Regions from separate parts of the Homo sapiens genome. Here region 1 is linked to region 2. The links come from fine-mapping of genetic effects on gene expression. Tissue or cell type: sun-exposed skin. Region 2 holds a variant in brackets; the other region holds the start of a gene. All regions are shown on one strand. Distances are from middle to middle. Region 1 holds the start of SH3KBP1 (SH3 domain containing kinase binding protein 1). Region 2 overlaps SH3KBP1 (SH3 domain containing kinase binding protein 1).

Region 1 (14,930 bases), 55 kb after region 2:
CAGCTTGCTCTTTCTCTGTCACTCTCTCTTCCCTTAGTATAGCATTTCAGATGTCCATCGTGCTTAGCATTGAACAACAGTCCAGGCTATACCTGGTTGATATGAAGTAGCCACAGATATACCTAGAAAGCCATTTTCCTCCCCCACTGCCTCCGATTCCCTGCCCCTGCCTGTCACATAGTTAACTCGGAGAAAGAGCAGTTCTTCTGGCTGGGAGCTGGCCAGGCACCCACAGCTGGGCCAGGGTGTCCTGTTGAACAGAAACAATTCCCTAGAAAACCAACATCAGACAAGGCCACTCTGCGACCAGGATGGAATAAGATGAAAACAAGACCACACATTAATCATGTCTGAACACGGACAAAACATGCACCTTGTCCAAACCACACACATGACCAAATATCCCCCAATCCTGGATAATGCAAATGACTGCTGCTGCTTTACCAACCATAGCTGTGGCCTGCCTCCAATGTTCCCTGCTCCTAGAGAACATTTGTTAAAATACCCAATCACAAATTCCCCCTGGTAGCATCCAATCCAAAGTAATGCCCAGCTTCCTTAAACACGCCCTCAAGCCACCTGACACAGGTGCAAGCCCTCTAAGTCATCCTTCCTTGTACCATCTTACTGAGATGCCCCGCGGTTCCCACGGTGCTCGTTTTCAGTCTCTGCCACAAGAACCAGGTGTGGCTGGAGGGCAGTGATGACTCATACTCAACCAGATTTCTGCTCAAACACAATCTCCTCTAAGACACTGTCCTGGGCACTCTCCAGGCTAAGTCAGATTGGCCTTCTCCACTCATCTTTCATGCGCTCTACTATGGCTTTCAGCTACATACTGCCATGAGAATTGCATTCAAGTCAGCCTTCATTAGACTGAGAAGCCCAAAGTGTCATGTCTCTGTTCTGCACCTGTTCTTAGCACAGTGCCTATGCAAAGAAGATCAACAAACATTGGATGGATGGATGGATGGATAGATGAACAAATACTGCTGTATGCAAAATACATTAAAAACAACTACAAACTCAAGAGTTGATGAGAGAATGTCAGTAACGCCAAAAGAACTGAAGTAGTAAGAGAAGAAACCACCAAGGTTTGTGTAACCAGAGCCACAGCAAGCTTTTGCTCGTGCCAAGATGGATAGAAGTGGGTAAAGCTTATGTACAATTAAGGTGGGAGCCTTTTCTTCCATTTCTAACTCAAGACATTTGTACAGACCAACACATTATGTTCATTTTAGCTTTAGTTTAGCATACAGCAGTCTACCGCCAATACAATAAATACATTGCCAAAGGCTATCCAAACTTTGTTGTTACTCTGGAATTAAACAGAAATCATTTGTGGGCTTGCAAACCCTTCACTACTCACAGATTTGGGTCACCATAATATCTGTTTAATTGTAATTATAAGAGGCTTTCTCTGTGTCTGGCACTGTAGGCATGCATCTCCTAGCAAGTTCAGAGGGCACATTCTGATGGGCTTTTATAAGAGGCCATGTTGCAACTAACCAGCTTCACTTCAGGGTTAGGGATTTGGTTCTTTTCTGTTATTTTTCAGAAAACGAAATATAAGATACAGTTTTACTATGTTATCCATCAAGAGAAAACTCATTATCAGGCCAGGTAAGAATATAAGTGTATCAGAATCAGGCACAGTGGTGTGAGCGTGCAGTCCCAGCTACTTGGGAAGATCTGGAGTCCAGGAGTTCAAATCCATCCTGGGCAACACAGCGAGACCCTCCCTCTTAAAAAAGAATAAAATTGCATCAAATTGATAAACTGGATAAATCTGAAAACCAGAGACTTGGGGGAAAGGGTGGGCCTCTGTCTGCATACACACAACCTCAGCCCATTAGATCACTCCATTGGAAGACATACAGAATGAACCGTTAAATAACTGCACTTCATTACAAATATACTGCTGGAGATGCTTTCAAAAGAGCAGGTGATTTTTAGCCACAAACTACTATAAGCACCTTAAATCCCACTATAAACATGAATTAAATTACATTCGTTTTGACATTATCACCTCTAAGTATTAACTCCTGAAATAAATGAAAATCGATGCCCCCTCCCCCTGCAATAATGGTTGCAGTAAAGATTAAGTACAAAAGGACTAAAAACTACAGGAGCACTCTATTTTTCGTAGGAAGTTCTGAAGAATGAAAACAGTTCAAATCTGAAAAATAGGTCTGATTCTTCTTAAATGAGACTCAGTCCCCTTCTCATTGAGATACAGAAAGCACAGTCTGGCCATGGGAGAAGACATTTGGATTAACTTCTTTTTGTGCATAACCCTCTCGGTGACCCACCCAAAATGAAAGGTGATCAAAACAGAATTTTTGGTTACCTCGGGAGAAATTAACCCATTACTAAAGTGGCCTGTAAGGTTTAAAGTATATACTTCTGCCAATGAACTAAATCATCTTATGGGCCAAAGCAAAACAAGAGTGAGCTAAGTGTTCTGTCCCCAGCAGAGGAGGAGGATTTCATGCCCCTCATTCATTCATTCAACAAATATTTAGGTCCTGCTCTGTGCCACACACCAAAAGTGCTGAGCAAACTATGCAACACTGTGCTGTCCCTATGGTCACAGAGCTTACAGTAGAGGAGATAACTGTTACGCACAAATATGTAATACTGCTACGAAAAAAAAAGGTGTTGTATGAGAAAATGGAACAGGAACCAATTTAGACTACAGGTGGGAGAGAAGGGCACTGTGAAAAAAGTGACATTTAAGCCAAGGGGACAACAGATCACCACTACTTAGAAAAGGAAAACCTTTTTTGGCAAATGACCACAAATGGGATTTTAACTTTGCCTGTCAACAACGGACTGGGTTAAACCTCCTCTTTTCCAATCCTTCAGGCTTTCTGAACATCCTGACTAGTGTACTGGAATCCTATTACCTGAACACAGAAAGGTCTCACTTTATTATGATTTATTATTATCTGCAGCCTTCCTATGCCTGGCCTAGGAACATCCAAAAATAATCTGCCAGAGGCTGAAAAACAGAAGCTGGCTGTCAGCAAGAACATTACCTGGGTAGACCAAACATTTAATAGCCCAAGTAATCATAAGTGCCTTGCCAATAAAGTGGCAGCTTCTCTGGGCAGCAAGGTGGTTCCAATGCTCCGGGGTCTAAATCAAATGGGACCCAGGGGGTTCAAAGGTTAGTTGGCTACTTCGAACTGATGTTTACTCAGTAAATCAAAGACCGGATCACCATTTCCAGGTCCCAGACCCTGAAGACTTAAAGGACAGTATGGGAAGTGGCCTTTTAGCATCACGGAGCAGAGAGCTCGCCAGGCTGGAGGAAGGCAGCAGCGAAAGGGTCGGGGCCGGGAGGAAGGGGGGCGCAAGGAGAGGAGCGTCAGGTGCTCTGGACCCCGGGACTGCGAGCCAGACCAGGAACTGGGGCGTTTCCCGCCCCACCCCCCAACCCCTGTCAACCCCCAGCAAAGGCAACCCAGCCCCCTCCAAGACCCCGAGGTTCCAGCTTCCCCCGAGACAGGACCAGGAAGACACCAGCAGCCCCGCGCAGGGCCGGAGCCCACCAGGTCCGGGTGCCCGTGTCCGCAGCGCAGAGGAGGGCGCGCTCGGGTGCAAAAATGGCCAAGACAAAACTCTCCCCGCCCACCCGAAAAACCAACCACACCCCCTGCATCCCTCAGCCCGAGCCGCCCGGGGCCAGCCCCCGTGATCGTCTGCTCAGGCCCCCGCGGGTTCCCGTCGGCGCCGCGCGCGGGCTCGGCGGGCACACGGGCGCAAGTGGGAGTGAATGGGGGTGCGCGAGGCAGGCGAGGGCGCCCACCGCGGTGTCCCCCGTCCGGACCCTGCCCCCGGGGCGCCCTCCCGGGCTCCGCGGTTCTGGGACTGGCGCGCCGCCCTCAAGGCTGAAGTGGACGCCCGGACGCGGGCGGCCCCCACTCACCCATTGGCGTCGAGCCGGGCCGGGCCGCCGAGGCAGCGTGAAAGTTGGCGGAGGCGGGCGTGGGGGTTGGGGCGCCGGGATCGGGGCGCTGGGATCCAGGCGCGAGGGTCCGGACGCGGCGGCGGCTGGGCCGGCTTCTTCCTCAGTGGCGGCGGCGGCGGCTCAGCGCCGCCCGCTGCTGCCTCTGCTGCTGCTGCCGCTGCTGCCCCGGGGCGACTCCTGCTGCTGCTGTTGCATCGCGGCCCAATGCGCCCGGCTGCGCCGGGTTTCCTGCTCCCCGCGAGTGGAAATTGCGAAAAAAAAAAAAAAAAAAAAAAAAAAAAAAAAAAAAAAAAAAAAAAAAACAGCGCCGCCCAGCCCAGCGCCCGGCAGCCGCGGCCGCGCCGCCCGCTCTCCCCTCCTCCTCAGCGCTGCCGCGAGGCTCCTGCAGCTCCGCCTGCCGGGGACGCGCGGCCGCCGGGCGGGGGCGGGGCCGGAGAGGGGCGGGGCCGGGGCCGGGGCCGCGTCGGGGCAGGCGCCGGGGGCGTCCCTGCGGCTGAGGGGCTTGGGCGCCCTCCTCACCGCCCGCGCCAGAGGCACCCCTCTCCGCGCGGCTGCCACCCACCCGCAGCGGCTGGGCTGACGCCCCGGGAAGTGCCGCGAGACTCCTCGAGACCGGAGGAGAGGGGCTTCTTGGGGGAGGGGCGTGGGAGTGCAGGGGCACGTGGAGAAGGAGGAGAAGGGGGCTGAGCGGGAGGGGGCGACAAGAGGTGGAGGACGGGCTGGGGATGGAGACCAGGGCAGGCCCGGGGCCAAACGCCTGACCAGGGTGATGGCAGGTGGCCCTGGGGCATCGAGGCAATCTGGAATGAGTTTTCCCGGGGGGCTGTTGGAGGGGAAGGAAAAGGGTCCCTTGGAAGGGAGAGAAACGCGGCGTCCCTTCGGTGGGGCGTGGGAACGCAGGCAGGCCAGGTGCGAGTTCCGCACAGAGGAGGCGGTGGCACTGACGTGGGGAAAAACGGGCGAAGGACGCAGCGGGGCCGAGGGGACGCATCGCCTCGCTGGGACCCGCCTAAGCCCCGCCCCAGTGCCTGGGCCAGGTGCGGTTCGGGTGTTCAGGAATGTTCCCGAGCTCTGACGTTCCCAGGAATCCGCTGAGATGAGGGCTGGCTCCCTCCCTAGCAGGCATTATTGTGCCTTACTGACTCCCAGACCTGGACGGCCGACCCTTGAGTGGGCGCTAAAATGTTAACAGGGAATCCGTGGGCATTCGTGGGCAATTCAGAAGCTCCGTTTTGGGTCCATTCACCACCACACCTTTCGCCATAGATACTCTGCCTGCCACCACATTCCTCTACCGGCCCGTTATTTCCTTTTCCCTTTCCACCATCTGGTGGTAGGAAGCGATAGTGAACTACATGGGAGACATTTAGGCAAAGAGCACGTAAGACAATAGAGAAATTACATCAGTGGCCCCTGGAAATGGAGGAGGCTGAGGGCTAGTGGACTCAAAAGGGACAAATGAAAGCCGACCCCCTACCCAAGAGAGGGGCTGTCTCCATACCTCACCTGTGTTGGCGGGGCAACTCTTGTAAATTGGTTACCGTCCTGGGATTTCTGTAGAAAATTGTTCTTATAACTGTTTCATGAGTTTTTCAAAAAACCTCAAAGTCAGGGTCTTACAAACAAGAGATCAGTAGCATCATCTTTCTAAATACCGTTCATGTGTGTCAAACCGATCGAAATAGGAGACTAATCAAGGGACAAGAGGCCCATCCACACAGAGGCTGCAATTGAAGTCCTAGTGTCATCAATATCAGACTCCTAAAAAAGGGATCAGAGAACACGGAGATTAAGAATGTGAAGGCCGGGCGCGGTGGCTCACGCCTGTAATCCCAGCACTTTGGGAGGCCGAGGCGGGCGGATCACGAGGTCAGGAGATCGAGACCATCCTGGCTAACATGGTGAAACCCGGTCTCTACTAAAAAATACAAAAAATTAGCTGGGTGTTGTGACGGGCGCCTGTAGTCCCAGCTACTCCGGAGGCTGAGGCAAGAGAATGGTGTGAACCCGGGAGGTGGAGCTTGCAGTGAGCCAAGATCGTGCCACTGCACTCCAGACTGGGCGACAGAGCGAGACTCCGTCTCAGAAAAAAAGAAAAGAAAAGAATGTGAAGTGGGCCAGGCACGGTGGCTCACGCCTGTAAACCCAGCACCTTGAGAGGCCGAGGTGGGCGGATCACCTGAGGTCAGGAGTTCAAGACCAGGCTGACCAACATGGCGAGCCCCTCTCTCTACTAAAAATACAAAAATTAGCCAGGCGTGGTGGTGCATGCCTTAGTCCTAACTCCGTGGGAGGCTGAGGCACAAGAATTGTTTGAACCTGGGAGGTGGAGGTTGCAGTGAGCCTAGATGGCGCCACTATACTCCAGCCTGGACGACAGAGCGAAAAACTCCGTCTCAAAAAAAAAAAAAAAAAAAAAGAATGTGAAATGTTGAAGGCAGGGATGATGAATACTCAAATATTCCTCCTCCAGGCACCCTGGTGCCTCACTCATTACATGTCTTGTTATATCATGTTCTAATCAGGGCAATCAAGCCTTCTGATACCATCTTAGAGTTGACAAACACTGAAACTCACAGAGCCTGGATAAACCCTCTGCTACTGGGACATTTTTTTTCCCCCAACCCCAGAAGAACTGGTATGGGGGTCTGCTCAATTCCAGAGGTGGTTCTCTTTGGTAAGGCCGTATCAGTGGGTCATCCTAACCCTCTCTCAAAGAGCCTCAGACCCCTGAAAGTGATGGGGTACATTTCAACATGGCAACAGTTGTGCTGGCCTTGCAGTGGACTGTTATCTGGAGTGCTGAAGATTCTTGGCTGGTTGCCCAGTGCATTCTCACAATGATGAGTCAAAAGTCTTTGAACATTGTTGATGATACCTTCCCATAGCTAAACTTACCCAGGCATCACAGAGGCCACTACACCTAAACCAGCAGATGGGGTGCGGGAACCCTGTCGGCTCAAAGAAAAAGAAAAAATCAGCAGTTTGTCTTATGTCCTGCTTGGTCTCTCTGTCCTATGTGGAGAAGACAGTCTTCTCATGGAATTTTATTTCCAACTTCACACAGGTGAACACAGATCACTTGAAATTTGGGGGGTTTGTTTCGTTTTGTTGTCTTTTTTTTTTTTTTTTCTGAGACAGGGTCTCACGGTCACTCAGGCTGGAGGGTAGTGGCGTGATCATGGCTCACTGCAGCCTCAACCTCCTGGGCTCAAGTGATCCTCCCACCTCAGCCTCCCAAATAGCTGGGACTACAGGCACGTGCCATCTCACCCGGCTAATTTTTGTAGTTTTTGTAGAGATGAGGTCTCACTATGTTGCCCACGCTGGTCTTAAACTCCTGGGCTCAAATGATCCTCCCCCGCCTCGGTGTCCCAAAGTGTTGGGATTACAGGCTGAGCCACTGCGCCCGACTTGCTTGAAGTTTTGAGTCTTGTTTATTCTCTGGTCTATTTCAAGGCATATCTTTTCCTTCTTGGACAGGAATGCGGTGTCGCTCCTCCTTGATCTGCTTCCTGCGTGGTCAAATTTGCGTTACCACAAAAGAAAGACTGATGGCAAGACAATATTTTTGAAAATCCCTGAGCTATGTCCTAATTTTATTTTTTATTTTTTTGTTTTTGAGATGGACTTTCACTCTTGTTGCCCAGGCTGGAGTGCAATGGTGGGATCTTGGCTCACTGCAACCTCCACCTCCCGGGTTTAAGCGATTCTCCTGCCTCAGACTCCCGCGTATCTGGGATTACAGGCATGCGCTACCACGCCCAGCTAATTTTGTATTTTTAGTAGAGATGGGGTTTCACCTTGTTGGCCAGGCTGGTCTTGAACTCCTGACCTCAGGTGATCCACCCGCCTTGGCCTCCCAAAGTGCTGGGATTACAGACGTGAGCCATCGCACCGGGACATGTGCCCTAATTTTAATGCCTTAACTAAACAAAGTTGTGGTGATTCTATCCAAAACACTATAGTTTATTTTTCATTTTAAGTTTCTCTGACTTATGAAAATGAACCTTCCATTTTTTCACTTATTGTTTAGTTCTTCTGAATTGTTCCTATTGTCCTTTCATTTTTCCTTGGAGAAACTTTTGCTGACCAGCACAAGGGAAGTTAATATCAAGATTCAGATCCAGCTGCTGACATGAATAGATGCATAATTTCTCATCCTGCCTCCCTCTTACAAGAGTATCTTTTAACAAAATGGTTATTGCAATATTTCAAATGATGTAAATTCATCTCATGAATATTTCTAGAGAAATAGGATTTTATTTAATACATCTTTGTCCCACTGAACTCCCATTTCCACCAGAGGAGATTATGCAGTTTGGAAATAGAAAGTATCGGAGCTGTTACACTTAAAATGATATCGTATGACTTAAAAGGCACCGCTATGTTGCTCAGTAGTAGTAACATATTTTTGGATAGAAACTGAAGGTGTGGCCGGCCATGGTGGCTCATGCCTGTAATCTCAGCACTTTGGGAGGCCGACGTGGGTAGATCACTTGAACCCAGGAGTTTCAGACCAGCCTGGACAACATAGTGAGATCCTGTCTCTACAAAAAATACAAAAATTAGTCGGATGAGGTGGCGCACACCTGTAGTCCCAGCTACTCAGAAGGTTGAAATGGGAGGATCACTTGAGCCTGGGAGGTTGAGGCTGCAGTGAGCCGTGACTGCACCACTGCATTCCAGCCTGGGTGACAGAGCAAGACCCTGTCTCAAAAAAAAAGAAAAAATTGAAGGTGGGTGAGCTTCTGTCTTTCATACTTGCTATCTCTGAGTACTCGGACTTAACATCTGTAATTTGCCTTTAATGAACAATACTTTGATAACCTTTAATATTGTCTTTACATTAATATAAATTACGTGCTGAGTGCTGTACAAAAGACACTCATTGTATAGTGCTTCTGATGAACTTTATGGAGAAATGTAAAAATCTCACAGTGCCAGAAAGTAAAGATGTACTCAACAAAGGTGACAGGGCACAGCAGAAGGGCACAGGAGCCAACCCCAAAGGGCTCCCAAAGGCCAAAGCTGGAGCAATTCAAGCAACAAAATAATTAATGATTGTATTGGAAGAAAATTAATATCTTTGAGTCTATAGAAATACAACTAAATAACTGACTAGGGGAAAATATCAAGGAGAAGGGACAAGTCTTCCTTACAGAGGAATTCCAATTAAAGTGTAGGAGAAATGAGAGAAAGGGAAAAGCATCATTAGAACATCACAGTAACTGCTAATATAGGCATGATCCAACTACCGTTCACAAATGAGTGGGTGAAACTTTAAGGAGAAACAGAATATTTGCATAGCCTCAAAGTATTTTCCCTGAAATAAATATGTCTTCATATTTAAAATGGGGGAAATAGTAACTTTACTTGGAGAACTCTGGCAAACAGCACTTTTTTTTTTCTTTCTTTCTCTTTTATTATACTTTAAGTTGTGGGATACATGTGCAAAATGTGCAGGTTTGTTACATAGGTATACACGTGCCATGGTGGTTTGCTGCACCCATCAACCCGTCATCTATATTAGGTATTTCTCCTAAGGCTATCCCTCCCCTAGCGCCCCACTACCCAAGAGGCCCTGGTGTGTGATGTTCCCCTCCCTGTGTCCATGTGTTCTCATTGTTCAGCTCCCACTTGTGAGTGAGAACATGCAATGTTTGGTTTTCTGTTCCTATGTTAGTTTGCTGAGAATGATGGTTTCCAGCTTCATCCATGTCCCTGCAAAGACATGAACTCATCCTTTTTATGGCTGCATAGTATTCCATGGTGTATATGTGCCACATTTTCTTTATTCTATCATTGATGGGCATTTGGGTTGGTTCCAAGTCTCTGCTATTGTGAATAGTGCTTCTTTTGAGGAGTGTCTGTTCACTTTAAGCAAGCAGTCATGGCTCTGTGCTGATGGCTTTTTTTTTTTCTTTTTTTAGACAGGGTCTGACTCTGTCGCCCAAGCTGGAGTGAAATGATGTGATCTCCGCTCACTGTAACCTCTGCCTCCTGAGCTCAAGCTCAAGAGATTCATGTACCTCAGGTGTGCACCACCACACCCAGCTGATTTTTGTATTTTTAATAGAGATGGGGTTTTGCCATGTTGACCAGGCTGGTCTCGAACCCCTAGCTGAAGTGATCCACTTGCCTCAGCCTCCCAAAGTGCTGGGATTACAGGTGTGAGCCTGATGGTTTTGAGGCAGGCTTTTCCATTCCTCCTTTGCTTCATGCACACCAGGTTAAAGGTAACTGATGTCTAGATCAAAAGCCACAGAAATATTAATGACAAATGTCTTGCTCTATTATGTTTACCTGGCTTGATAGCCTCTCTTAGAATGACCCACTCCCTTCCCTCTTTTTCCTTTTCAGTAAATCTTTTTCAGCAAATCTAACAGGACTGGGTTCACCTGCTCTATAAAGATGAACAAACGAATCAAATCAGAGAAGTAGATCACTTATGAAACAGCTAAACCATGACCTTCTTTACAAGGTTTGTGGGAACGCCTCGCTTTGTAAACAAAGGAAAACACAAAGGAAGCAACTAGAAGGTGAGACGTGCATGTCCACAATGCTACAAAAATAGGATGTCCTCGTTTAAAAATCCAAAGAATGCCTGAGTAATCAACTCCCAAGCTGACTGGTCACACAAGCTTGTATCCAAAGTGCGCAAAAAGAGCCCTGGTGCACAGATGAACTTGCCAAGAACATTTTTCCATCCTTTTCCACAGCACTGCTTTGTCTAAGAAAATAGTAAATTGGGAGAATGGTCCCAGGAGATTAACAAAAAACATGGTTTCTACTGTTTTCTACCCATCCTGCTGGTTTCCTCCCCCACCAAAATCACAAGGGGTCATGTGTAAGGAACTACATTTTCACAATTAAAAGGCAAATCAAATGATAATCAAAAAAGTTCCCAAAGCACCAGACATTAAGATCATATGTGTGATATATATATTGTAATAAATGTTAACATTAAGCCAGGCATGGTGGCTCACGCCTGGAATCTCAGCACTTTGGGAGGCCTACCCAGGCAGATCACTTGAGGCCAGGAGTTCAAGACCAGCCTGGCCAACATGGTGAAACCCCGTCTTTACTAAAAATATGAAAATTAGCCGGATGTGGTGGTGCACGCACGTTAATTCCAGCTGCTGGGGAGGCTGAGGCAGAAGACTCGTTTGAACCCGGGAGGTACAGGTTGCAGTGAGCCGAGATTGTGCCACTGCACTCCAACCTGGGCAACAGAGCAAGACTCCGTCTAAATAAATAAATGTTAACATTAAATAGAACAATGGCATTTAACATAGGAATAAACTGTATCAACAGGCCAATTTTTAAAAATGGAAACTGATAAATTACTATGGGAGGCTTTTGATCTCATCGGTAATGAAAATTTAAAAGTAGGAATTGACTTGCAAACATAGTTTCTCTTTTTGTCCCAGAACCTTCGGGAGAAGCTAAGCTCAGGGGCTCCTTCACAGGCTGGGTTCCTTTGGAGCTCAGCCTCCAGGCTGCACAGACATTGGCCCGTGTTCCTGACAGAGGGAAGAACAAGTGAGGATGTGCAGAGTCTGCAGAACAGATGGCATTTTCAAGGGGTCTCCTGTGGAAGGGGCAGGAGTGTAGTGAAATGTCTGATTCTAAATGGTTTCTATGTCAGGGCCAGATCAAACAAGACCCTGCAGGCAATGGGTAGGAGCACAGGTTTCTTTTTTCTTTTCTTTTCTTTTCTTTTTTTTTTTTTTTTTGAGACAGAGTCTCACTCTGTTGTCCAGGCTGGAGTGAAGTGGCACAATCTCGGTTCACTGCAACCTCTGCCTCCTGGGTTGAAGCAATTCTCCTGCCTCAACCTCCCGAGTAGCTGGGATTACAGGTGTGCACCACCACACCTGGCTAATTTTCGTATTTTTAGTAGAGATGGGGTTTCACCATGTTGGCCAAGTTGGTCTCAAACTCCTGGCCTCAAGTGATCCACACACCTCGGCCTCACAAATGCTGGGATTACCAGTATGAGCCGCCGTGCCTGGCCTGGAGCACAGATTTCTAAGCAGGCTGTTTTTAGGGAGGTAACTGGTGAGCTCTGTGGAGAAAGGACTGGAGGAAGAGCTTGCAGGTGGGAGGCCAGCAACAGGCCAGAGGTGGTAAAGGCAAGAAATATGATGGCAATGATACTAACAAAGAGGAGAGGTTACATTCTAGAGCCATTTTTGAAATACATTTGACAGGCTCTGATGAGGCAGTGGATTTGACGAGAGGATAGGGAGCAAAGATGGAGGATTCAATAGAGATATTTTGTTAGTTGGCTTGGAAGTTGGATAGATAATGGAGTTTCAACTAAGTGGAGAAATCCACTAAGTGGAGAAGGAAGTTTTTGTTGGGGTAGGGATGTGGAGGAGATAATGAATTCAAATTTGAATGTTATTAAGAGCGAATACAGCCAGGCTCGGTAGCTCATGCCTGTAATCTCAACACTTTGGGAGGGCAAGGTGGGTGGATCGCTTGAGTCCAGGAATTCAAGACCAGCCTGGGCAACACAGCGAAACCCTGTCTCTACAAAAACAAAAACAAAAAAATGCAAAAATTAGCCAGGCATGCTGGCGTGTGCCTGTAGTCCCAGCTACATGGGAGGCTGAGGTGGGAGGATCACTTGAGCCTGGGAGTTTGAGGCTGCAGTGAGCCAAGATTGCACCACTGCACTCCAGCCTGGGTGACCGAGCAAGACTTTGTCTCAAAAAAAAAAAAAAAAATGAATACAAAAGGGAATGAAGTACTGATTTATGCCACAACATGGTTGACCCTTGAAAATATGATGCTAAGTGACAGAAGCCAGTTGTCGAAAGCCACCTATTATATGGTTCCATGTATATGAGATTTCTGGAACAGGCAAATCCATAGAGACAGAAAGTAGGCTAGTGGTTGTCAGGGGCTGGGGGAATTGAGGAGTGACAGCTAATGGGTACAGGGTTTCATTTTGCGGTGACAAAACGTTCTAAAATTGATTGTGTTGATGGTTCCACAACTCTGTGAATATACTAAAAACTGTTGAATTATACATTTTAAAATGGGTGAATTGCCAGGCACAGTGGCTCACACCTATAATCCTAGCACTTTGGGAGGCCGAGACGGGTGGATTGCCTGAGGTCAGGAGTTTGAGACCAGTCTGGCCAACATGGTGAAACCCTGTCTCTACCAAAAATACAAAAATTAGCTGGGCATGGTGGTGTGCGCCTGTAGTCCCAGCTACTCGGGAGGCTGAGGCAGAAGAATCACTTGAACCCAGGAGGCAGAGGTTGCAGCAAGCCGAGATTGCACCACTGCACTCCAGCCAGGCAAAAGAGCGAGACTCCGTCTCAAAAAAAAAAAAAAAAAAAGTTAATTATGTGATATGCAAATTATATCTCAATAAAAGCTGTTAAAGATTTTAAAAGAGTGATCATGGTTACAGCATTTCAGTATGGGAAGATGCAAATGTTCTGGAGATGGATGGTTGTGATGGTCGCACAACAATGTGAATGTATTTAATGCCACTGAACTGTACATTAATAAATGGTTAAAATGGCAAATTTTGTTATGTATATTTTAGTACCAAAAGAGAATGAATACATATGTGATTGGTGGGTTATATGGGGCTGGGTGGGGACGATATTCCCTGTGTTTTAACTCCTCCAATAATACCCCCACACTGCTTCCCAAACAGGAAATCAGAATTACAATAACCACCACCCCATCACCTCGGGGTTCAGAGAAACCAAGACCAGTGGCCTGAGCTGACGGTGAAACGCCACAGCCATCCCCTAGATTGTGAAGGCCCCAAAGCAGACAGCCAACCTCAGATGCATCCTCAAGCCCGAGGCTATGGGACTTAATTGAAAAGTCTCTGAACCAGGCGGTCACTTAATAAGAGATGGCACAACCCTTTTCTAGCACGACTTCTTATTAAATAGAGTCAGTCAAATCAAGTTCCTCTTCTCAAAAATAATTACAGACCAGCCAGAGGCAAAAGTGGGAAGTAAGTCAAGTTCATCTTCTTTGTTTTGCTTGCCAGCCCTGGGTTAAGGATTCTATTCCCCAGCTGAAGTTTTCTTTTCTGGACCACAGAAGCTCTCAAAGTGTGGTCCCCAGCCCAGCAGCAGCAGCATGTGGGAACCTGTTAGAGATGCACGCTGGGGACCCCGCCCCAGGCCTTCCGGGTCAGGAACTCTGGGGCTGGGACCCAGTAACCTGTGTTTTGATCAGCAGCTCAAGTGTGAGAATCCCCGCTGTACCTCAACTCCTCAGAGCCAAGGTGAACGCTCTGTCATCTGATGAACTGCTTGGTCCTTGGCAATGAAAACGGGCTCAAGGGAGCTACCAGTGAGGCATAGCCCTGAACTGGTAAAACTGACTTGATGTTTTGCGATATATATTCATATCATTATCATTAGAAAAGTAATCTCTGCTCAGTATTTTAAAAAATAAAACAGGCCAGGCACAGTGGCTCATGCCTGCAATCCAAGCACTTTGGGAGACTGAGGCAGGAGGATTGCTTAAGCCTAGGAGTTTAAGACCAGCCAGGACAACATAGTGAGATCCCATCTCTACAAAAATAAAATAATAAAAAATCAGCCAAGCATGGTGGCACGCACCTGCAGTCCCAGCTACTCGGGAGGCTGAGGTGGGAGGACTGCTTGCGCCTAGGAGGTCGAGGCTGCAGTGAACCATGATCACATCACTGTCCTCCAGCTTGAGTGACAGAACAAGACCCTGTCCCAAAAATAAACTAAACTAAAATAAAATATTAAGGATACAGTGTATAAGGTGAAAATCTTCCATCATCTCACAATTACCAATTACTGCAGAGATAATTGATAATCACTGTTAACTCTTGAAGGAATATTCTTCCAGACATTTTTTAAAGTGTGTAATGATACTAAGATATATGATGATTTCCACCTATTATCACTGTAATTTTTTGGAGCTAGTA
Region 2 (8,000 bases):
TTCCACAAAACTACCCAATTCCATCTGGGGACACATTATTCTTACACTACATAGGACATGCATAAAGCCACTTTCAAAAGTGCACACCTATGCCAATATGATTACTATTACTTAAAGATGCATTTTCAGCTTTTAGAATTCTCTACAGAGTCCTGGTTATTGTTTAACTCCACTGCAACCACCTACTGAATTTTCAATAATAGGCCTAAAACATTTCCAGTGGGTGAAGACTTGAAAATAGACTCAGCCATCTGAAAGAATAGAAGTTTCTTTTTCTGCCAAATGTGACAGCTACAAGTAGCGCAGCCCCAGCCACTCCTGCTACATCCTTTCTGCCCTAGGTAGAGCAAGCATCTCTCAAGAGCATGTCTTCCCCTCCCTGGAAGTGCTCCGGCTGAAACTAGAGGACACCTGAGCAGGTGAGCGCAGGGCAATTCAGGCCCAGAGGAGAGGACCCATTCCCTCACCCAGTGACCAGCACTGTGGCACACTCACTGAGGGGCTGGCCACTGTGCTAAACAATTTCCAGCATTCTCTGGTTTAATCCTCTGAACAGGCCGATGAGGTAGTCGGGTTCTCAAAAGGAAACAGATGGCCCACTCGAATTAGGGTAATCTCAAGTGGGATTAATACTCTTTCACAGGGTGGGTGAGGTATAAAGAAAGCCCAAGGTGGTAGCCAGGGACTCGAAACAAGGAAGCCCCCAGACCTGAAGGAATGAGGAGAGAGGGGTAAGGAGGAAGGTGAGCCTGACTGGAGCAGCCACCCATCCCATGAGAGACACGGCCAGCCCAAAATCCACATGAGCAGGGAGTTGGTGGGATAACCGCCTCCCCCCGCCCCCCAATCTCACTCGCATCCCTCCCTGCCATCTCCCACCAGGGCTTCCCTTGAGCCAAAGCCCATGGGAAGCCACAGGACAGGAGCCTGCTGCCATGCCCACACTGGCCTAGCCCAAAGCAGAGCAGGTGGGGCAATGCGGAGACCTTCTGGTCAAGACATCACCTCCATTTCACAGCAAGGAGTCCTCTCCGAGCAGGGGGAGGGTCAGGTTCCAGCTCTCGCGTGGGCAGTTCCTACACTGCATTTCCCTGCCCTGGTTCCCTCCACAGTCACTGACAGCGCGCCAGCCCTATGCTATGAGCAAATTCCATAGGCTTTCTCAGTGCCTTCCAACTCAGTTCTCTGAATCTGTAGATTTGTGGTTTAAAATCAGGTGACACTAGGCCAACAAGACACATTAAAGGTGTTCAAAATACGACCTACCCTCAAAACTGGAGCTGATGCTGCAGTCCCTTCTCCTTCCCAGGCTCCTCCTCTCTCTTTCCCATGGTCCTCCTCTCCTTCCCACGGTCCTCCTCTCCTTCCCACAGTCCTCCCTCCTTCCCAGGGCCCTCCTCCCTCTTTCCCACAGTCCTTCTTGCCTTCCCACATTCTTCCTTCCTTCCCAGGGTCCCCCTACCTCTTTCCCATGGTCTTTCTCCCCTTCCCACAGTCCTCCTTGCCTTCCCACATTCTTCCTTCCTTCCCAGGGTCCCCCTACCTCTTTCCCATGGTCTTTCTCCCCTTCCCACAGTCCTCCTTCCTTCCCAGGGTCCTCCTCTGTCTTTCCCACAGTCTTCCGCCCCTTCCCACAGTCCTCCTTCCTTCCCAGGGTCCTCCTCCCTCTTTCCCACAGTCCTCCTCACCTTCCCAAAGTACTCCTTCCTTCCCAGGGTCCTCCTCTCTCTTTCCCATGATCCTTCTCCCCTTCCCACAGTCCTCCTTCCTAGGGTCCTCCTCCCTCTTTCCCACCATCCACCTCGCCTTTCCACAGTCCTCCTTCCTTCCCAGGGCCCTCCTCTCTCTTCCCCACAGTCCTGCTCACTTTCCCACAATCTTGCTATCCTTCCCCACAGTCTTCCCTCCTTCCCAGGGTCTTCTCTCTTTCCCACAGTCCCCTTCTGTCATTCCTTCTTCCTTCATCTTCACTCTAACCACTGCCCCTTTTATCTGGAAAAACCCTCTTTCCACACTAGAATGCAGCTCAACTTCAGGGATGCTCCTTTCCTAAAACTGGGGTCTTTGTTGGGATATGCAAAAGAACTCCCATTCACACCTCAACAGAGTCTGTGGTGGCCCAGATGCAGCACTTTCCCACTCTTAAAATGGGAGCGAGCGGCTGGATTCAAGTGTAGTACAGTGGGGGGAAAGCCTATATTCCTACAACTCCAGAAAGCAATGTTTAGCAGCATGTTCCCTACAAAACTCTCCCCAGCCTTCTCACACCAAAGAGAAAAGAAAACAGAAATGCTAGCAGGATCACCCTGAGACAAGATCCTAAAGAAAGATTTAAATAGGTTCCTATTCATTTTCGACTCTGAAAGGGTAGTGACTGGAAGTCCAGTGTCCATCACACATTTTTCATCAACAACTCCTTGTCATAAAAAACCCCTCCCACCCAGCCCTCAGGGCTCCTTTGGCGGGGGTCACCTGCTTCTCTGGGCCCAAGGTTCCCCATACTACCTGCCTCCCTGTATCCAAGGCACAGTCCTCTTAAGTATTATCTGGTAACACGGAGACTACAGCAGGGGACCTGGGGACTTCTGCATGCAGGTCTTCCCACTGAGGACAACCCATTCTTCTGAGAACAATCCATTCTTCTCCAGTATGAGATAGAAAGTTTATGGCAAGGGGACTTCTAGACCTAGTTAATATTTCCCATGAGGAATAGCCTCCAGGTGATCTTTTTCTACCCAACAATTCAAAGTACTACTTACAACTGTGTGGTAATTTATTAATATGAATGAGTTACATTTTTATAATTAACCTGTAGATGACTTCTCCAAAAGGCATAATTTTCAAAACATTACTGAAGAAGTAAGTCTTGTTTAATGCTTCATGGACATAAAGGGGTAAAGGAAAATAATATTGCTCCTATCAAAAAGGCAATATGAGCTGGGCATGGTGGCTCACACCTGTAATCCCAGCACTTTGGGAGGCTGAGGTGGGCGGATCACTTGAGGTCAGGAGTTTGAGACCAGCCTGGCCAATATGGTGAAACCCCATCTCTACTTAAAAAAAAATACAAAAATTAGTCGGGCGTGGTGGCACATGCCTGTAATCCCAGCTACTCGGGAGGCTGAGGCATGAGAATCATTTGAACCTGGGAGGTGGAGGTTGCAGTGAGCTGAGAACAAGATCATGCCACTGCACTCCAACCTGGGCAACAGAGCAAGACTGTCTCAAAAAAAAAAAAAAAAAGGCAATATGAATACAAAGGTGGAAAACATTGCATAATTTGAATTCTATATTCATTCATTCGTTCAAAGCATTCCATAATTTGGATTCTACCTTTACTTATTTGTTTGTTTATTTATTTAGAGACAGGGAGTGCTCTGGCATGATCACGGCTCATTGCAGTCTCAACCTCCTGGGCTCAAGTGATCTTCCCACCACAGCCTCCCAAGTAGCTGAGAATACAGGTGCACACCACCATGCCTGGCTAATTATTTTATTTTATTTTTGTAGAGACAGGGATCTCCCTATATTGCCCAGGCTGGTCTCAAACTCCTGGGCTCAAGTGACTCTCCTGCCTCAACCTCCCAAAGTGCTGGGATTATAGGCATGAGCCACCATGTCTGGCTGAATTCTACATTTAATTTAATTGTTATTTAAGTGGTCAAAACTGAGTTTTACCTCCATTTTGCAAGGAATAGAAAAAAATAAAATTCTTTTAAACTTCCAAAGCAAATAAACAAGTACATACAACAATTTAACAGCCTTTACTATTTTTTTTTTTTTTTTGAGACAGTCTCGCTCTCTTGCCCAGGCTGGAGTGCAGTGGC[G/A]CAATCTCAGCTCACTGCAACCTCTGCCTCCCAAGTTCAAACGATTCTCCTGCCTCAGCCTCCCGAGTAGCTGGGACTACAGGCACATGCCACCACACCTGGCTAATTTTTGTATTTTTTTTTTAGTAGAGATGGGGTTTCACCATATTGGCCAGGCTGGTCTCAAACTTCCGACCTCAAGTGATCCGCCCACCTCAGTCTCCCAGAATGCTGGGATTTACAGGCATGAGCCACTGCACCCAGCCTTAGCATATCCTAAGAAGTGATACACAGTGGAAAGAGATCATCCTGAGCCTCAAAAAAGCAATTTCAAAACAAGTATCCCAGATACCAAGGGCAAAACTATACATGCTTCTCTTGATATCACAGAGGAGGGCAAGCCATTCCCTAAGAGAGTTCATGCAATTCATCCTCAAGCGCCCCCATAGACTTTGGTCAGCAGAGCCCACACAGGAGACAGGAAAAGGGTTTTGCTTTGTACTCACTCTTACAAAGTTGTCAGGGAACAAACCTCTCCTGCCGTTGATCTGTCCCTCCCACCAGCCTCCATCCTCCTTCCTGATGTTGGTGATGATTTCACCCACGCTGATCGTCAGCTCATCATCGTGCTGGGCCTGGTAGTCAAACTCCACTATGGCCTCCACTGGAAGGAACAGGGAAAACAGAGTAATTTAGGTCAGATGTTGGAGAAGGCTGAGGTCCAGTATCCCTTGAAGGCCAGTAAAGTAACATTAAAGGGACTTCCCCTCTACAAATATTCAAAATAACAGGGCCACACACAGTAACCCAATTTTGGTTAACCTGAAGCCTATAGCACAGAAACCACAAAGTGCTGGTCCGTGGTCAGGCACAGGCAGGGTGGCCTACAGGTCTTGGGGCCAGCAGGCGCTTCAGAGGGGAAGCTGCATGATGACAGCCAGATAACAACATTTGCCCCACCCAGAGGGTGTCCAGCATTGTCTCCCCGAGCTCAGAGTACAGACAACAGATGTCGGTTTGACTTCTGGGTCTCCCATCCCCCGCCAATACTATGTGATGCTAACCTCTCTGGGTCTCAGTTGTACAAAATGTCAAAGCTAATAATCCCCATCTGATATGGTTTGGCTGTGTCCCCACCCAAATCTCACCTTGAATTGTAGTTCCCATAATCCCCAAGTGTTGTAGGAGGGACCCAGTGGGAGGTAATTGAACTATGAGGGCAGTTACTCTCATGCTTTTCTTGTGATAGTGAGTGAGTTCTCATGAGATCTGATGGTTTTATAAGGGACTTTTCCCCCTTTTGTTTGGCATTTCTCCTTCCTGCCACCATGTGAAGAAGGATGTGTTTGCTTTCCCTTCTGTCATGATTGTTAAGTTTCCTGAGGCCTCCCCAGCCATACTGAACTGAGTCAATTAAACCTCTTTCCTTTATAAATTACCCAATCTTGGGTATGTCTTTATTAGCAGCACAAGAACAGACTAATACACCATCCGACAGAGGTAACACCCATCTTGCAGCAACAACACGTGTAAAGACAGGTGGCATAGAGGGCCTGGCTGGCCAAGCCAATGTCTCAGACCGCCTACATCAGAACCACAACTGCCCTCTCAACAGATGAGCTCTTACGCATCAATTCCATGTTACATTGTTTTCCTGATCTATGAAAATCTCTCATACTTGGTAATGAGCAAAGGCAACAGGTAAGAAAGGTGGGTCTTCTCACTGACAAAGTGCCAATGCAAATTAGCAGCATTAACCAATCCAAAAATTAGTTAACTTATGCAATTCATTTAGACTGGACTTCTCCTCATGACCACCTCAATATGAACCAATTTCATAACACTTTTTTTTTTTTTTTTTTTTTTTTGAGATGGAGTCTCACTCTGTCACCCAGGCTGGACTGCAGTGGCGCAATCTCAGCTTACTGCAACCTCCACCTCCCACGTTCAAGCGATTCTCCTTGAATGCATGCCACCCCACCCAGCTAATTTTTGTATTTTTAGTAGAGACGGGGTTTCACCATGTTGGCCAGGCTGGTCTTGAACTCCTGACCTCAGATGATCTGCCCGCCTCGGCTTCCCAAAGTGCTGGAATTACAGGCATGAGCCACCGTGCCCAGCCACCTTTTCCTTTTTTATTTGCAGATCCGTATGAATGAATGAATGAATGGCAAATGAATGAATACAAGGATAGCAAAAATTAGATAAATCCCCAGTGGTAAATTAGCAATTCAGAAATTATGATAAAATAATGGAAGAGGAAAAGTTAAATGAGCTCTGTAAAGCATGCATATGCTAAAATTAACTCAAAATAGTTCACAGACCTAAGTGTAAGAGCTAAAATTGTAAAACTTTTTATAAGAATGGATAGGAGAAAATCTTAATGACCTTAGGTTTGGCAAAGATTTCTTAAATAGGAGACAAAAAGCACAAATGAGTAAAACAACAACAACAACAACAACAACAACAACAACAACAACAAACCAACTTCAATACACTGAGATAGGTTTTAAGCATCCATTGAGATGATGGGAGAAAAAAATTACAATGTCTATTCATTTTGTTTTAACTTTAAAAAAGTAATAATTCAACTTCTCTATTGTTCCATTGACAGAATGACACAGGTTCCTTCACCCAGTCTCCAGGACACACAGTCAGGGATCCTTTAAGGGGCAGGAAGCAGCCAGAGGGACAGTGGAATCAAGGAGTACCACCAGAGCAAGCACCAGCATTCCATGTGATGCTAACTTCTCTAGGTCTCAGTTGTATGTCAAAGCTAATAATTCCCATCTGATATGGTTTGACTGTGTCCCCACCATGGGGTGCCCTGCAGTTCTCTGGTGCCTCCTGGTACAGCCTCCTTATGGCTATGACCCCTTCTTGCTGAAATCACCCTCACAAAGTGGGTCAGCTGCTTGAAAAGATCTGTGTAAAGAAAGTAGGAGCTGTAGACAACACGAGGCCAAGTGCCAAGAAAATGGGAGAGCTGGCCGGGCACGGTGGCTCATGCCTGTAATCCCAGCACTTTGGGAGGCCAAGGCCGGCGGATCACAAGGTCAGGAGTTTGAGACCTACCTAGCCAACATGATGAAGCCCTGTCTCTACTAAAAATACAAAAATTAGCTGGGCTTGGTGGTGGGTGCTTGTAATCCCAGCTACTCTGGAGGCTGAGGCAGGAGAATCGCTTGAAACCGGAAGGCGGAGGTTGCGGTGAGCCAAGATCATGCCGCTGTACTCCAGCCTGGGGAAAAGAGCGAAACTTTGTCTCAAAAAAAAAAAAAAAAAAAAGAAAAAAAGAAAAGGAAAAAAAGAAAGAAAGAAAATGATAGAGTTGCCACTTCAGCTTCTGCTGGGAGCTCTTTGCCCACCACATGGGGAAGACACATCAGATCTTACGGGGAGATGGCCCCCAAACACTCAGTTATCAAGATCATTCATAATATGGGTTTCTTTCCACCCCTGACATTGGTGTAAGTGTGGAACCATCAGGATTAGCAAGATATTTTAAAACTATGTACCTGAACCATGAAGAAAATGTCTTCATTTTTCCACCAATGTCTAAAGTCATACAATACTCAATTTTATGTGTTTCAAAAGTTTGTTAAGCCTAATAATAACAGCGTAGGAGCTTCTCTGGGGTTTTCTTGATCTTCAATTAGTACAGGAATATATGTACACAATCTATACATAATTAAGAAGATACTAAAAAAAAAAAACAAAATTTTTTTTTTTTTTTTAGACAGGGTCTGGCTCTGTTGCCCAGGCTGGAGTGCAGTGGCACCATCTCAGCTCACTGCAACCTCTGTCTCCCAGGCTCAAGTGTTCCTCCCACCTCAGCCTCCCAAGTAGCTGGGACTACAGGTGCACACCACCATGCCCAGCTAATTTTTGTATTGTTTGTAGAGACAGGATTTCACCGTGTTGGTCAGGCTGACTTCAAATGTTCTGCCTGCCTTGGCCTCCCAAAGTGCTGGGATTACAGGCGTGAGCGACCACCCTGGCCATTGCCCTTTCTTTAAACTTAAGTAATCATGCACAGCCTCCTTGCCTTCTGGCCACAGCTAGGTCCTGACTGCCTCCACATCACCTTCCAAGCTCTTCTAGACCCAAGGCCTCTCTGGCCCCTGCCACTGAGGCAATCCCAAGCTGTGTCTTGTCTTCCCTGTGAGCCCCTGAATGCCTTCTGGGTATGGA

The links. PIP is the estimated chance that this variant, and not a neighbour inherited with it, causes the effect.
Region 1: SH3KBP1 starts here. The variant in region 2 is fine-mapped to the expression of SH3KBP1 in sun-exposed skin (GTEx, PIP above 0.99).

What each region holds. Positions count from the first base shown.
Region 1 is chrX:19,883,373-19,898,302 of GRCh38, forward strand. It overlaps SH3KBP1 (SH3 domain containing kinase binding protein 1), which reads right to left and starts at 4,228. Exons shown (of 18, transcript NM_031892.3): 1 at 3,935-4,228. The coding sequence starts at 3,938. RefSeq lists silencers at 3,630-3,769, 4,250-4,319, 4,380-4,679 and an enhancer at 6,845-6,894.
Region 2 is chrX:19,831,813-19,839,812 of GRCh38, forward strand. SH3KBP1 (SH3 domain containing kinase binding protein 1) reads right to left here. Exons shown (of 18, transcript NM_031892.3): 2 at 4,313-4,470. Among named protein-coding and RNA genes, the nearest start is that of SH3KBP1, 52 kb to the right of the region's middle. RefSeq lists a silencer at 4,708-4,767. The variant G/A (reference allele first, on the strand shown) is at 3,828.